Linked DNA regions of Homo sapiens: region 2 is linked to region 1. A link means that fine-mapping ties the variant in region 1 to the expression of a gene that starts in the linked region. Tissue or cell type: lung. Region 1 holds a variant in brackets; the other region holds the start of a gene. All regions are shown on one strand. Distances are between the middles of the regions.

What was found. PIP is the estimated chance that this variant, and not a neighbour inherited with it, causes the effect.
Region 2: FBXO32 starts here. The variant in region 1 is fine-mapped to the expression of FBXO32 in lung (TOPMed, PIP above 0.99).

The regions. Positions count from the first base shown.
Region 1 is chr8:123,492,155-123,500,259 of GRCh38, reverse strand. It overlaps FBXO32 (F-box protein 32), which reads left to right. Exons shown (of 9, transcript NM_058229.4): 9 at 1-2,371. Among named protein-coding and RNA genes, the nearest start is that of FBXO32, 45 kb to the left of the region's middle. The variant G/C (reference allele first, on the strand shown) is at 3,146.
Region 2 is chr8:123,537,660-123,545,764 of GRCh38, reverse strand. It overlaps FBXO32 (F-box protein 32), which reads left to right and starts at 4,559. Exons shown (of 9, transcript NM_058229.4): 1 at 4,559-4,866. The coding sequence starts at 4,751. RefSeq lists silencers at 4,033-4,322, 4,413-4,522, 4,573-4,662.

The DNA of each region.
Region 1 (8,105 bases):
TCAAAGGTTTATGGGCAGTGAGCCTAGAGTCTCTTGAGAGTAAACCCTTGCATTTGGGACAAGGAGAATATGTGAAGTTCAGGAGTGCTCACACTAGAGCAAGATCCAGAAAAAAAAAAATCCAATGGCATTTTAAACTAGATTGCATTATCACTCAATGCTGTTACTTTGAGCAGACAAATCAGTTGAATGGGAGGGCAAATGGCAGAAATGAACAAAAGCTATTAGGTGAAAGCATCCCCAATGTATCAGTTGTGAGATGATTTTTGTTTAATGATGATCAGGTTTACATTGAAGTGGCTTGGAAGACGTATTTCAGAGGGACTGGGTTTGTACTGCAAAACTCTGAACACTAGAGCAGGTTCTACTAGCACTTGGGCAGTAAGGTAGCGGGTGTGTATTATGCTATTGCCATAGTTCTCGTCTTTGTGGATTCACATACCCTTTCCCATGAGGAGCTTGCTACTAACAGCCTCCTGTTTCTGTTGTTTTTATATGGGAGAAGAGAAAGAGCTTGGAATTTCAATTGTCTAAACAATTGGTATGATTTACAAGAAGGCAAACCATTCAGGAGATGTTCAACAGTGTATCATTCTTAGCATTCAATACAATGTTTATTATAAAATATACACCTGAGTTTATGTTTTTCTGCCAGGCTGAAGGGCAATAATGTCTTGCTATGCAAACACTCTATTTTATGTGTGAATTTTTTTAACTGTAATTTTATGTGTGAATTTTTTTAACTAAACTCTATCATCATTTTCTATGTTGACATCTTTTTTTTTTTTTTAATCTGTTTCCAACTCTGAGTCTGTGAACTATCTCTTCTGACTGGATGCTGGCCTAAAATCCTATTAGTGCTTAAACAGACCTCAAAACACTCTGAACCTGTAGGCCAATACAGAGATGTTGTTCTTTGATATATCTTGGGTCCTTGATGGCTTCAACAAACAAGGTCATAATTTGTTTAAATTCAGTGTTTTCTGTAGATACCTTCTTCTCAGTTTCATTAAGAAGAGTAACCATCTTTGGTTTTCCAAAGAATGGAAACTCCTACCCTAGACTTTAGACTTAGAGCGTCTGCCTTTCACGATGAGTAAGAGATCCAGAATGTTTAGGGGATGTGCGTCAGCCCACCTGGTACAGTGGCAAAGCTGAATGCGAACTTGAGGCCTCCTGAGGCCTGACCTTCTATGCCCCCAGCCCTCCACCCCAAGCACCTTTTGGTGTGGCTGGAAACACATGACATTGGATGTGATTTTTCTCAAGCCCTTCACTGTGGAAGGCATGGGAGACTGCCCAGCATTGGGCATGTGGCTGTTAACGTTTCCATTTCAAGTCCCTGATTCTTACTGGAGAAGTTAAGGAGCCACTTAATGTTTTCACAGACCTCTGATTCTGTTGTGAATGTGGCATTCCAGTGAGTACAACCTGCTTGCTATAAAGAAAGCAGCATATTTTGACAATTTTATTTCTTCCTTGGGTACTTACATTTTTATTACAAAAATGGCCGTTATAAAAAAAGACAGAAGGGCTGGGCAGTGGCTTGCTCCCTAGAAACTGAGATTCCGAAGCAGGTGTTTCCTCTCCCCTAGACTCAGAGGTACATTTAATCCATCTTCTCCATTTCCTCCTTCAGGACCAGCTATGAGATTCAGTGCATTTCTAGCCCAGCGGATGTTCATTCTCCACTAAACTTCATCTTTTACTAAGCAAAGGGGGATTATTCCATGAGGCAGCCAGGAGCAAGGGGCCATGATATTCATGACTTTGTCTGCTGGGCATTTTTCAAAGTGTCCTTGAATTCACTCAGCAAACAAAGCTTTCTGGAGAATCTCTCAAAACTTAGGCCCTGCTCCATTTGGCCAAAAATGATGGCTGCTCCAAAACTCTGAACTTCTTAAAACTCCATCTGCTACATTATTTCTGGAGTTTAAACATGACTTTTTCTGTCTTTGAGTATAGATGTGTTTGTTTAATTAACGAAGCACAAGTCTGTTAAGCAGAAGGCTCCAAGCTGTATTCTATACTTGGGAATCCTTGGTGCCATCTTTATTCTACCAAGTGCCAATCACCATGGCTAAAGTGGGCGTATATTACAGCCTGTGTCCTAAGCTTAGAAGCTTTAATGTACTTTTTTAAATGAAAAGTATTAGAGGGGGTTGAACATTGTAACTAAAGCATAAAGTTAGACCAATTACATGCAGAGATGTTTATTTAATATTGTGTGAGCTGAGTCCTTCTGTATAAATTATTTGCACACTTTTCTTGCATGATGAACTGATTTTTTATAGTTGTTTGTACCAGACGGTGGCATATTTTTGTAAAAAACTTTTGACACTGAATTGCAATAAATGTTTTTCCAACAACACACACTGGTGCATTTTTAGTATGTCCCAATTCAAGTTGGCTTTTTATCATACCAAATATGTTTATCTTTTGCCTATTTAGACTTATATTCCTTCTCCCAGAAACTTGTTACCATTTTTGTAAAATTTCTAGGAATCCATAGAAAAATAAGCTTGTTGCTGAATACCAACCTGAGTCCGTAATACAGCATTATGCTTAAATTGAATGTTTTCATATACTGTTTGCACAGCAGAATGATTAAGGAATAATGAATTTTGAAGTCAACATCAATTTATTCATCAACAGGCATTCATGGAACAGCTACTATATGCTAGACCTGTGCAAGGCACTGGGAATAGGGTAGTGAACAAGACAGAAATTGTCCCTGCCTTTTGTGTGTGGTTTTGTTTTGTTTTGTTTTTTGGTGACAAGGATGGGATCGTCCTTGCCTTAATGAAATTTAGATTTTAGTAAGAAAGAGGGCCCAGGTACAGTGGCTCACACCTGTAATCCCAACATTTTGGGAGGCCGAGGCGGGTGGCTCACTTGAGGTCAGGAGCTCAAGACCAGCCTGGTCAATATGGTAAAGCCCCGTCTCTACTAAAAATACAAAAATTACCTGGGTGTGGTGGCAGGTGCCTGTAGTCTTAGCTAATCAGGAGGCTGAGGCAGGAGAATCTCTTGAACCTGGGAGGCGGAGGTTGCAATGAGCCGACATAGTGCAATGCATTCCAGCCTGGGTGACAGAGGAAGACTCTGTCTCAAAAAAAAAAAAAAAAAAAAAAAAGCCGGGGGA[G/C]AGCCGGGCGCGGTGGCTCATGCCTGTAATCCCAGCACTTTGGGAGGCTGAGGCAGGTGGATCACGAGGTCAGGAGATCGAGACCATCCTGGCTAACACGGTGAAACCCCATCTCTAAAAATGCAAAAAAAGTTAGCCAGGCGTGGTGGTGGGCACCTGTAGTCCCAGCTACTCAGGAAGCTGAGGCAGGGGAATGGAATGAACCTGGGACGTGGAGCTTGCAGTGAGCCGAGATCGTGCCACTGGACTCCAGCCTGGGCGACAGAGCGAGACTCCGTCTCAAAAATAAATAATTAAAAATAAAAATAAAAAATATTTTTAAAGGGGGGGTGGGGGAGAAAGCAAGTAAAAAAAGTTATTTGTAATAACCAATATGAGGGGAATGAACAAAGGGTTGAGATCTAGAATAACAAGTGGGACCCAGTTAAGACAGTGAGGACCGAAGCAGCAGGGGCCTCTCTGAAGAAGTGATGTTGAAGAAGCCAGCCCCAGAGGAATGAGGGCAAGAGCATTCTGAAAAGAGAAACAGCTTGTACAAGGTTCAAATCATGGTCCTGCCACTTACCTGCAGAGTGGCCTTTGTCACCTCACTTCAGCCCTCTGTGTCTCAATTTCCTCGACTCTAAGAATACCTATCTCTTATGGCTCAGAGGGTTAAGTGAACTAACACATATGAACTGCTTGGAGACAGGCAGTGTTAATGATTATTGTTATTTCCTGAGCAACAAGAGTCTAAGAATCGGGTTCAGAATTGCACTGTGTTTCCAGGAGGGTATGATTTATTCAGGTGACTGACTTGCGGGAGATTGGCTTACCTGATACTTTCACTCTGGGACGCCCTCCGATCTGACCACTAACTGTCAATCAGAAAATGACAGAAGGTACATGAGAGTAATTAGAGATCATTTTTTTAAACCTCCACCAGGATCACAAAATCTCACCATTCCCTAAATATGACAAGCCTTCTCTGCTCAGGTAATGTGCCTCCTTAGAATGTTCTTCCCCTACCATCTATCATCTGTCTGATTAGCACCTTTGGGCCACTTCCTCACTAAAGCCTCATCCAGCTGAGTGAATCCCATTTCCCATCACACTTCTTTGCCTAGGGACTTTGTTACATCGTAGTCTTACTTGTGGCAATTGCATAGTACCTAGCACAGTGCCAGGGCTGAATGAATTAATAGGACCATATATACCAGGGGTCCCCAACCCCCAGACCATGGACCAGCACTGGCCCATGGCCTGTTAGGAACCGGGCCACACAGCAGGAGGTGAGCAGCAGGCAAGTGAGTGTCACCACCTGAGCTCCACCTCCCGTCAGATCAGCGGTGGCATTAGTCTCATAGGAGCACAAACCCTGTTGTGAACTGCGCAGGTGAGGCATCTAGGTTGTGTGCTCCTTGTGAAAATCTAATGCCTGATGATCTGACATAGAACAGTTTCATTCCAGAACCATCCCCCCCGCACCCGCCCAGTCCACAGAAACCAGTCCCTGGTACCAAAAAGGTTGGGGACCACGATATATACATTCAAAAAATGCTTTTGAAAGTCTTAGGACCATATACCCACACTTAACTAGAACAAAAATTGGCATGAGTTTATGTCATAGACAGAATTATTTACAGCTTTTTGATTTAAAATTAATGTCTGTTGATAAAGTAACAAATACAGAGACCCAGTTTTCATTAAAGTTGCCTTTAAATTCCACTAACAAATCTTGATATTTACAAGCCTAGTAAATTTTAATACAAAATAATAGGATCTTTTATTACTCTTAATAAACTCAAATTTAATAGATCACAGTCCCACTAAAAAGTAATTCTCTTTTACAAACTTAATAAAAAAATCCTTTAAACATTTTAAAGCTGCAATTATAAATCTGATACATTTGATTTTTAAGCACTTCAATTATAAATTGAATGCATTTGCTTTTTAAAAAAACACTGCAGGCTGAGCGCAGTGGCTCACGCCTGTAATCCCAGCACTCTGGGAGGCCGAGGCGGGCGGATCATGAGATCAAGAGATCGAGACCAACCTGGCCAACATGGTGAAACCCCCCTCTCTACTAAAAATAGAAAAATTAGCTGGGTGTGGTGGTGCACACCTGTAGTCCCAGCTACTCGGGAAGCTGAGGCAGGAGAATCACTTGAACCTGGGAGGCAGAGGTTGCAGTGAGCTGAGATCGTGTCACTGCACTCTAGACTGGGGACAGAGTGAGACTTTGTCCCAAAAACAAAACAAAACAAAAAGAAAAAACACTGCAAATACTTGCTCAGATAAGCTTACAGCCTTAATAAGCAAAACATTCTCAAGTAAATAAGTTACAAATTTCACAAATTAAGCATAAATGTATTTTATCTCAAACTCTCTTAGAAACTCTAACATTGTTAAACAAGTGAAACTATCACATCTTTCCATTTAAAATCATATCTTACACTAATCACTTATGTTAAATGGAAATCATAAGGCCACCATGGTAGGCAAAATAATAGCTCTCTAAAGATGTCCACATCCTAATTCCTGGAACCTATGAATATGTTGCTTCATGTTAAAGGTAAAATTGCAGATGTGATTAAATTAAGCACCTCTAGATGTAGGGGTTATCCAGGACCATCTGGGTGAGCCCAGTGTAACTTCTTTTTTTTTTGAGACCGAGTCTCACCCTGTGGCCAGGCTGGAGTGCAGTGGCGTGATCTCGGCTCACTGCAACCTCCACGTCCCAGGTTCAAGTGATTCTCCTGCCTCAGCCTCCCGAGTAGCTGGGACTACAAGCACACGCCACCACGCCCAGCTAATTTTTGTATTTTCAGTAGAGACGGGGTTTCACCATGTTGGCCAGGATGGTCTCGATCTCCTGACCTTATGCTTTGCCCTCCTCATGGCCTTAAGTGCTGGGATTACAGGCGTGAGCCACCACGCCCAGCCTTTTTTTTTTTTTTTTTGAGATGGAGTTTTACTCTTGTCATCCAGGCTGGAGTGCAATGGCGCAATCTCAGCTCACTGCAACCTCTGCCTCCTGTGTTCAAGCAATTCCCCTGCCTCAGCCTCCCCAGTAGCTGGGATTACAGATGCCTGCCACCACCCCCGGCTAATTTTTGTATTTTTAGTAGAGACAGGGTTTCGTCATGTTGGCCAGGCTGGTGTCGAACTCCTGACCTCAGGTGATCCACCCATCTTGGCCTCCCGAAGTGCTAGGATTACAGGCATGAGCCAGCGCACCCAGCCCCAGTGTAACATTTATGGCAGAGTCTTTAAAAGTACAAGAGGAATGCAGCGGAGGTCAAACTGATGCAACACAAGGACTCCACTGGCCCTTGCTGACTTTGAAGGTGGAGGAGGAGACCACCAGCCAAGGTATGAGAGCAGTGCCTATAATCGGGAAAAGGCAAGGAAAGAGATTCTCCCCTAGAGCTCCCAGAAGGGAACAGTCTTGATGACATCTTGACATCAGTCCACCAAAACCTATGTCAGATCTGACCTGCTGAACTATAAAAATAACAAATTTGTGTTGTTTTAAGCCACTGAAGGTGTGATTTGTTGCAGTAGTAATAGGAAACGAATACAGTTAAGCTGGCAGCTTCTCTAGTACGTCTAGCAGCCCACCCCTACAAAAGCTTTTCCCTGCCAGTTCTGCCCCCACCCCAGACAAATTCCCACTGTCCCTAATGCTGCATAGCCCTCAGCCCAAGCTGGGCAAGGATCTGTCTGAAAATAAAAGGCACAACCATCTTCACAGCCTAATTCAGAAGCAAGACTTATTTTGACCGCCAGATACGTGGCAGTGCAAAAGCTAGACAAGCGGTGTCAGCCTCTGTCCATGGTAGGTGTAAAGTTTTCTCCTTCCTGTTTTACATAGGCTTAAATTGAGGCTGACACCAATCACGTTTCTGCCCAAGAAACATCACAGAGAATCAGTGTTGCAAATTGTCTCCACTGAGCAATGTTTATGAAGCAGCAGTGTCGTGGGCACTGGAGCAGCCAGGCAGAAGTGTGAGCTTAGCCCTTGCCCTCAGGGAACTTACCTGCTGGTGGAGGAGTGGGAGGGGCTGGAAAATGTGTTATCAATTACAATACAGGAGCCAAAGTTTTAAATGCCCAGAGTCAGTTACAAGGTACTAGAGGAGTTCAGATAGGAAGAAGAACTGAGTTCACGTTTTTGAGAAGGAGAACAATGTGGGATGAAGCATGAGCTCCTTTGTTGGAAGCCAGAAATGGCACTAGGGATCAAGGGCCAGAGACCAATACTTAACACTTACCAACCAAAGTCCATTCTGTGCATTGATAGATTTCTTGGGAGGGGAAAAAAACTACTCTAAAGTTTGGACAGAGTTCCCTTTTAGAGAGAATTAAAGCTGTGTCCCCTGGGGTCTCAGTACCAGAGCTTTCCCAGTGTTCCAGAAAACTAACAGAAGCTCAAATGAACCTCAGCTCCCTTCAAGTGGTTCTATGATGGTTAATTTTATGTGTCAACTTGGCTAGGCCATGGTACCCAGTCATTTGGTCAAGCATCAGTCTAGTTGTTGCTGTGAAGGTATTTTTTAGGTGTGATTAACATTTACATCAGTAGACCGTGGGTAAGGCCTTCCATAATGTGGGTATACCTCATCCAATCAGCTGAAGGCCTTGAGAGAACAGAGTGACATCTCCTGAAGAAGGAATTCTGCCTTTAGACTGCCTTTGGACTCAAGATGGCAACATCAACTCTTCCCTGGGTCTCCAGCCTGCCAGCCTACCCTGGAGATTTTGGACCTGCCACCCTCACAGTTGCATAAGTCAATTTCTTTTTTTTCTTTCTTTCTTCTTTTTTTTTTTTTGAGACAGAGTCTCACTCTGTCGCCCAGACTGGAGTGTAGTGGCACAATCTCGGCTCACTGCAAGCTCCACCTCCCAGGTTCAAGCAATTCTCCTGCCTCAGCCTCCCGAGTAGCTGGGACTACAGGTGCCCGCAACCATGCCCTGC
Region 2 (8,105 bases), 46 kb before region 1:
TTGATGGGGAAGGTGGACATGGCTTAACCGAGTAAAAGATGGAGGTGTAAACTTTGCATAAAGATAATGACAATAAAGACCCATTGTCATTGGCACTGTTAGAAGTTCTTCATACATATTATCTCAATAAATCCTCAAAACACCCTTTGAGGTAGGTACTATCATTATTTCCATTTTACAAATAAAGGAAGTATGGTACAGAGATGTTAAGTAACTTGCCCAAGATCACACAGCTTTTTAGGTGGGGAATGTGATTTGAACCCAGTGAGTCTGGCTCTAGTCAGGGTTAGAGATAAGCCTGGGTACCAGTTGGAGTCCCACCACATTTGCTAGGTGATCTCACGCAGGCTATTCAACTTTTCTGAGCTGAAGTTTCCTCATCTATAAAATGGGAATAGCAATTCCTAGCCCACAGGTTTATGAGGAGTATGTAACAGGATTGTGTTTGTGAAGTGACTGGCACACTGTCCTCAGCATGGCAGGCATCTATCATCAATGGAATAGGACATTAAAACATATTTTTTCTAAGATACCACCTTTTGACTACCTTCCCCATCTGCCTCACTAACCCATAAAGCATCACTATTGGAGAATGCAGCTATACGAGGTAGGACTGGGGGCTGCCAACCCTCCCTTTGCTCCACCCTGCTATGTCCCTAGAAGTAATAAAATGTCAACAGGTAAAGACATGGGAATAACAGCCTTCCAGGTCAGTTCAACAACATTTGTTGATTTTTTTTTTTTTTTTTTTGAGAAGGAATCTCACTCTTATCACCCAGGCTGGAGTGCAGTGGCGCGATCTCAGCTCACTGCAACCTCCACCTCCCGGGTTCCAGCGATTCTCCTGCCCCAGCCTCCTGAGTAGTTGGGATTACAGGCACCCACCACCACGCCTGGCTAAATTTTATATTTTTAGTAGAGATGGCGTTTCACCATGTTGGCCAGGCTAGTCTCAAACTCCTGACCTCAGGTGATCCACCTGCCTCAGCCTCCCAAAGTGCTGAGATTACAGGTGTGAGCCACCGCGTTGGGCCCATTTGTTGATTTGTTGATGTAAATGTACCGTGTACCAAGAACCTTATTAGACACTGTGGCACTAAACTCCTAAGACACAGCCCTGCCATCAAGGAGCTCACAGTCCTAGACAGGAGAAGAAAACACAAAAAATCAAACACCCAGTATGTAATCTGGGTAATGTGTTATACAAAACAGTGCAGGAAAGGCAGTAGCTAAGTGTCTAAGCAATGAAACACACAGCCATGGTACATACATCATGTACACTGCACACACCATTAGGCTACATGGGGTCCTGACCAGTCTGTGCTGTGCCTTGTGAAATTCTCTGAGTATCTATCTGTCTCTATGTCTTCAGCCTGAAGCTATAACATTGATATTTTGCTTTTGGTGATTCTCAAATGCTCAGCTATGATAGGGCTTACAATCACAGAGTCTTTACAAAGTTCAAGCCCCCATCTGATTTGAAGGTAACTGTTCTGGACATAGCCTAGCAAGTTCTTTATCTTGAGGGGTCCAGCATTACAAAACTTCCCAGTAGAAACCATGTTTAAATAAGTGTCAGCTGAGCATGGTGGCTCATGCCTGTACTCCTAGTAGTTTGGGAGGCCAAGGCGGGAGGATCACTTGAGGCCAGAGTTTGAGACCAGCCCGAGCAACATAGCAAGACCCCATCTCTCCAAAAAAAAAATGTTTTAATCAACCAGGCATGGTGGTGCACGCCTGTTGTCTTAGCTGCTCAGGAGGCTGAGGCAGGAGAATCACTTGAGCTCAAGAGTTCAAGGCTGCAGTGAGCCATGATTGCACCGGTACACTCTAGCCTGGGTGATAGAGCAAGACTCTGTTTCAAAAAAAAAAAAGAAGTCTCAAATTAGATTTTTTTATGGTAAGAGAAATCTGAAATAGTCAATCACACTTCAGAAGAAGCCTGCATTAAGATATGATAGCAACAATTCTGTTTGTTTGTTTTAAGGAACAGAAAGCGGAAGGACTAGAGACAAACACTGAGGCTTCCTAAGATTAGTTATTAGACAAAAAGACAAGGACAAAAATAATTGTAATTTCCTATTTGTGCTTGAATTTTAGAAGTTAAAGAAACTTTCACCAACTTTGAGCCACTCAACCCTTTATAGTAGTCAGCTATCGACACAATAATGCTGTGTAACAGTAAATCACAAAAATCTCAGTGGCATCAACAAGACACATTTATTTCTTGCTAACACATCTGTGAGGTCAACGGGAGTGTCTGCTCCATGTGTCACATCCTGGGACACACGGATGTCACTCAAACCACTCCAGGAGCAGTGGCTACACAGGGTATGCTCTTTTCATGGAGCAGGTGAACACACAAAACATCAAGACCAACCAGGCAAGTACATACATCAGATCCTCTGCTCACATCACATCCATCAGCATCCCCTTGGCTAAAGCCAGTCATATGGCCAAGCCCATTGTCAAGAATTAGAAAAATACACATCACCAAAAAGTGTGGGCACATGACGCTACTGGAAAGGAGGGAAGAATGGGTACTAATAATTCAATCTACCACAGCTTTTAAACCATCCTGAAAGGTAGGCATTATTGGCTCCATTTTTTCTTGACAGTTAAGTAAATGGGGCCCTAAGAGTTTAAGTCATTCATCCAAGGGAGGACAGGTAGTATGCTGCTCCAGCAGAATTAGAATTCAAAACTTCTACCTTCTGGCCCTCTGTGGTCTCTACAGGTATGTAGCCAGCTTACTAATACATAACTAACCCACATTGTTCATAATCACATCCCAGGCGGGCATGGTGGCTCACGCCTGTAATCCCAACACTTTGGGAGGCCAAGGAAGGAGGATCACTTGAGCCCAGGAGTTTAAGACTAGCCTGGGCAAGATAGCAAAACCCTATCTCTACAAAAAATATAAAAAATTAGCCTGGTGCAGTGGTGAGTGCCTGTAGTCTCAGCTACTGGAGACTGGGGCCGAGGTGGGAGGATGGCTTGAGCTGGGGAGGCTGAGGCTACAGTGAGCCATGATCACTCACTCTAGCCTGAGTGACACAATGAGACCCTGTCTCAAAAATAATAATAATAATAATCACATCCCTTAATTATGCAGATACCAATTCCCTCCAACAGAGACCAGACCCAACACTGCCTCATTTGTTAGCACCATCACAGTGTTTAACATTTGTTTGGGACTTCTTCAATGTTTTTACAAGCTTTTTTTTTACTATTACTACACTAATAAATTATTTACGGTGGGAAATCTAAATCAGAAAGCTCTGGCTTCTTGAAAACAAACTTTATTAAAAACGTCTTCCCAGTCCAACATGTAGCCTCATAGGGCACACACAATTTCTTTGCCTGAGCCTTAAAGATTACACCGAGTCAGTGGACTAGATGATATTGATGGCTGCAGAGAAAGAAGAATGGAAGAATGAAGTTTGAAGCTAATGCTTGAGTATGGGATTTTTACTCTGCTGCTGCTGTCCTGTGCAAACTAATTGCCAAATAGACCAGGCTGTAAAGCATCATAACTAGAGGTGATGAAGGGCAAGAAGCCACCCTCATGCCAGCAGCCTCCCGTATCCATTCACTTATTCACACAAATAGTTGTTGAAGGCCTGCACTGGGCCTGGCAGGGTGCAGGGGCTGAAATGCCTCCGGAACAAGACAGACCAGCTCTCATGGAGTTCCCACTGCAGACAGGGGTAGATTGTTGTAACAACAGCAAAAAGTAAAAGCAAACAGGGTAGTTTCAGATTGTACTGTAGCATTGGCCCTGGGTACATCATTTAACCCGTCTCTTAGAGGGTTCGGGTAGGATAGGGGCGCTGTTCTTTTTCTCCACTCCCAACCTGCGGGAGCCAGATACCTCCCAGGGCTTCCTCTCCTTCCCCTCCTTTGCTGCCCCAGGGGCAGGTCTGAAGGAGGACTGGTTAGTGACAGCTAAGGGGCCCGGAGGGCTGGGAGGCTGTCCCTCCTCCCCGCTCCAACCCCCGCGCGCTAGGGCGGGGTTGGGGCAGTGAGCGAGGTCAGGAGGCTGCGCCCCCTACTCCCCGCCCGGCGGGCGCGGTGCCGGCCCCAGCTCTGCGGACGGCCCGGGAGGCTGATCTGGCTGCGGAGGTCGATCCTGATAGCTCGGGGGCAGGAGGGGGGCTGGCCCTGCTCCTCACGCCCACCCCGCAGGGACCCAGACGCCCCTCCGGCCCCCTCCCTGCACCCCGTCAGCCCGGGAGCTGCAGGAGACCGGGGCGCATCTTTCCAAGCGCCGGGCCTCGCTCTGGGACAACGGTGTCCTGGGGGCGGGGAGGGCGCGCGGAGGTGCCAGGGGCGGCGGGGTACCCGGCCCGGCAGCACCGCTTCAAGTTTCCACCGGCGCGGTTGTGCAACCGGGAGGGGAGCGTGAGCCGCAGGCGCCTCGGAAAACAAGCCGAGCCCATAAACAAAGCCACGTGGCCTCCGGGCCGGGGGGCCGGGCTAAGAGCGGGCGGCTCTTCCGGCAACAAAGAGCTGCGGCCGGCTGCGGGGATAAATACTGCGGCAGCTACTGCCGCGCAGCACTCCCGGAGCCTGCAACGCTTGAGATCCTCTCCGCGCCCGCCACCCCGCAGGGTGCCCCGCGCCGTTCCCGCCGCCCCGCCGCCCCCGTCGCGGGCCCCTGCACCCCGAGCATCCGCCCCGGGTGGCACGTCCCCGAGCCCACCAGGCCGGCCCCGTCTCCCCATCCGTCTAGTCCGCTCGCGGTGCCATGCCATTCCTCGGGCAGGACTGGCGGTCCCCCGGGCAGAACTGGGTGAAGACGGCCGACGGCTGGAAGCGCTTCCTGGATGAGAAGAGCGGCAGTTTCGTGAGCGACCTCAGCAGGTGAGGGGACCCGCTACCAACTTCCAGCCCCCGCGAAACTGACCCGGGCTGGTCTGGGGGGCGCAGGGACGGCGAATGAGGGGCAGGCAGGGCTGGAGCGGGCTGAGGAGGGAGACCCTGACCCGGAGGGTGGGACTACGGGGCCCGATTTCTGCAGAGGTCTTCGGACCACCGGAGACAGGGAATTCGGTTTCTCTTATTGTTCAAGGTCAGTGTCTCCAAGTGGACACGACTCCTTACAGAACACCTGGTCCCTCTGAGAGTCTGATGACATTCGCGGATCGTGTCCCCAAACGTTCGCTCAAACTTAATCACACAGCTTTAGTGGTCCCTGCTTTAAGGACACCGGAGTCGCGCACTTTGCCCATGTGGGGGCGCGGGCGGGTGGGCTGAGCCCCTTCACCGCGGGGTGGCCCGGCTCCCAGCGCCCAAGCGCTGTGGACGCGACAGGTGACGGGATCCGACGAAGGTCCCGCCTGGAGCGCTTCCAGGCCCTGCCCAGGCACGGGCAACCACGAAGTGGCCGGGAGGATGAGTAACCAGGAAGGGACGGCCAGATGGTCCCTGGGGCAGCCGCTTACTGGGCGGACTTGCGAGCGGTGGAGGCTTGGGGCTGCAGAGGTGCAAAGGAGGGAAGGGGGCAGGGGATGAATCCCACAAGAGCTCTGCTTCTGGGAGGACAGGGCTCTTGCACCTGTTTCCTCGGTGGCCCTCTCGGTCGGTCTGCTTTGTATAGAGTGCACTCCGTTTCCAGGGGTGCCTGTCAGCTGCGAAAAGCCTGCCTGGCCCCGGTGAGCCTCTGGATTCGAGGCCTCACCTGAGCTCTGTGGTCTGGCGGGAAACCTGAGGTCCGCTGCGCTCCCTGCTCAGCTTGGCTAACGATGCCAGCGCCGGCTAGTACGCAAGGTAGCCTGGAATTTCTCAGCCCCTGACCTCGACAGTTGACTTTCAGAGACTCTCAGCATTTAGCCCGGTGAGCGGGGGCGATGAAAGTGATTCCAGAATGGACTGGTGCAGCCAGAGTCACCCTTGGGAGCCTTTTCCTGCCACCTTTGGTTAAAACCATGGGCCCCTGCACCCTTAAATTGACTTCAATGGAGAATTCTGTTTCTGGGCCAGGTTCCCGCTTACTGAGATTTACCAGTCGTTGCTTGGATGAAGCATTGGCAATAAATTTTGAGAAAACTATCAAGAAAATGTGGTTATTTTGGCAACTTGAACTCCCGTGCCTCCCATTTGTTTGTGATTTGTAATGCATCAAATTCCCATTGTCTCACAATGTAAAGAAAGACATTATTTAATTCTGGGGGTCTGTCCGGAGAGACTTGAGCGTATTAACCACCAGCATATAACCATTTACGTTGGAGTTACTTGGAGGCTGTCCCAGGGGAGTTTAGGGACCACCATAAGGAAATCTTATTTACGTAAAATCAAGTAATTTATTTACGGGAAAGTAAGACCAACTGCTATTGACAGACTATGTCTTTTATCGACTGGAGTTACCAATTATGCCTAAATTATTCTCCCTCAACAAAATGGGAACCTTCCTTCCTTCCTCCTTGTTCCTAAGGACAATGATCTAATATGTTGGTACTTTATTTCTGTATACAAGTTCAGGTTCTTTCTAGAAAAGTGCCGAAAGGGTCTGAAGAGTCATGTTAGAGCTGCTCACCCAAATATAATTGCAGGATGCTCCTCAGTGGAGAACAGATGATTGAGTTCAGCAGAAGATTTAAAATGTAGGGTCGTATTAATACTTACCCTACTCGGGAGGCTGAGGTGGGAGGATGGCTTGTGCTCAGAAGTTCAAGGCTGCAGCGAGTCATGACTGTGCCACTGCGCTCCAGCCTGGGCCACAGAGCGAGACCCTGTCTCTAAAAATAAATAAAAATTTAAAATTTGTTTTAAAATACCCTATACCGGCATCAGGAGAGAAACTGGTGTCACTCTCCTTTAGAAATAGTGGTATCTCTGTCTTCACAGTATGGAAGACCTGAAGATGGTCTTAACTTACCACAAAAGTTTAGACTGGGCTGGAATCAGGTGGTTTCCTGCACAGCCCCCCTCCCGTGTCCTGTTCATGAGCCTCTTTTTCTTCCCATTTCACACCTGAGCTGGAGCTGTCACATCCATCATCATTACCGCAAATAGTCATTGATATACTGACCACCTGTGGTCCTTTGAGTCAGCGTTTAGGAATCATTTGGTAGCCTCCTAGCAAAGCAGCTGGCTGTTTGTTTGCAGGGTATTTTTTTTTCCAGCAACTGTAAACAATCCCTTCCCTGCTTAGCATGAGAAGCCTGCAACTTCTTAAAAGCAGTTGGCCTTCTGTGGTCTGGGTTTGTCATCTCAAATATCCTCACTGTTTTTGGTCTTGGTGATGTTTCCCCGTGATGTCAGGTTTGGACTGCGTGCCTGCCTGCACAGGTGAAGCTGAATGCCTCTCCTGTTATGAGAAAACAAAAGGCAGGCCCTTAAGCGGGGAGGGACCGTGAAACAGAGAACTACAGAGACATGGTAGACTGACTTCTCTAATTCCACAGACCATTCTGCAAACGGCCCAAACAAGAGCCCGGGATGAAGGATGCATTTGGTGGTTTTCAGCCTGGGGTTATTGTTTCGTGTTGACCAAGTCTTGTCCACACAGCACACCTATTCTGGACTCAGCTGGCCATCTTCTCTGTGGTCTAGGACTCCAACCTTCTCCAGTGTAGAATGTTACAAATCCAGTCCCAGCCATGTGTCCAGGAGTGAGATCATGGGAGGATTTAAGATAAGCTTAAAGCAGGACCCCTTCTCAAAAATGTTGAAATTATATAAAATAGAAGGGGAATGGCAAGTGTTAAATATGCTGGGGCAGATTTAAAATGCAAGGAAAGAGCTTGGCGTGAATTGGGATGATCCAAGAATGCTTCAAGGAAGTGGTGGTTCAGGCACCCGCACAGCCTTCCTCAGCAACCACCCCCTCACCGCCCACCCCCAGGATGAGTAACCTAAGCTGTCTGAGCCTCTGCCACTCTTTTCTAAGCCTACACTTCTGTCATTGAAGACTGACTCAAATGTTACTTTACTGTATGGCTGAGGCTGGACCCGGAAGCAGGAAGTTTACCTTGGTGACTGGATAAAAATAATAGTTAAGATTTTATGAGTGCTTACTGTGTGCAAGGCACTGTTCTATGAGCGTTATACACTAGGCTGTTTGTTTCACCAGAGCATTCCGGGTGCTAGCCTTGTGAGTG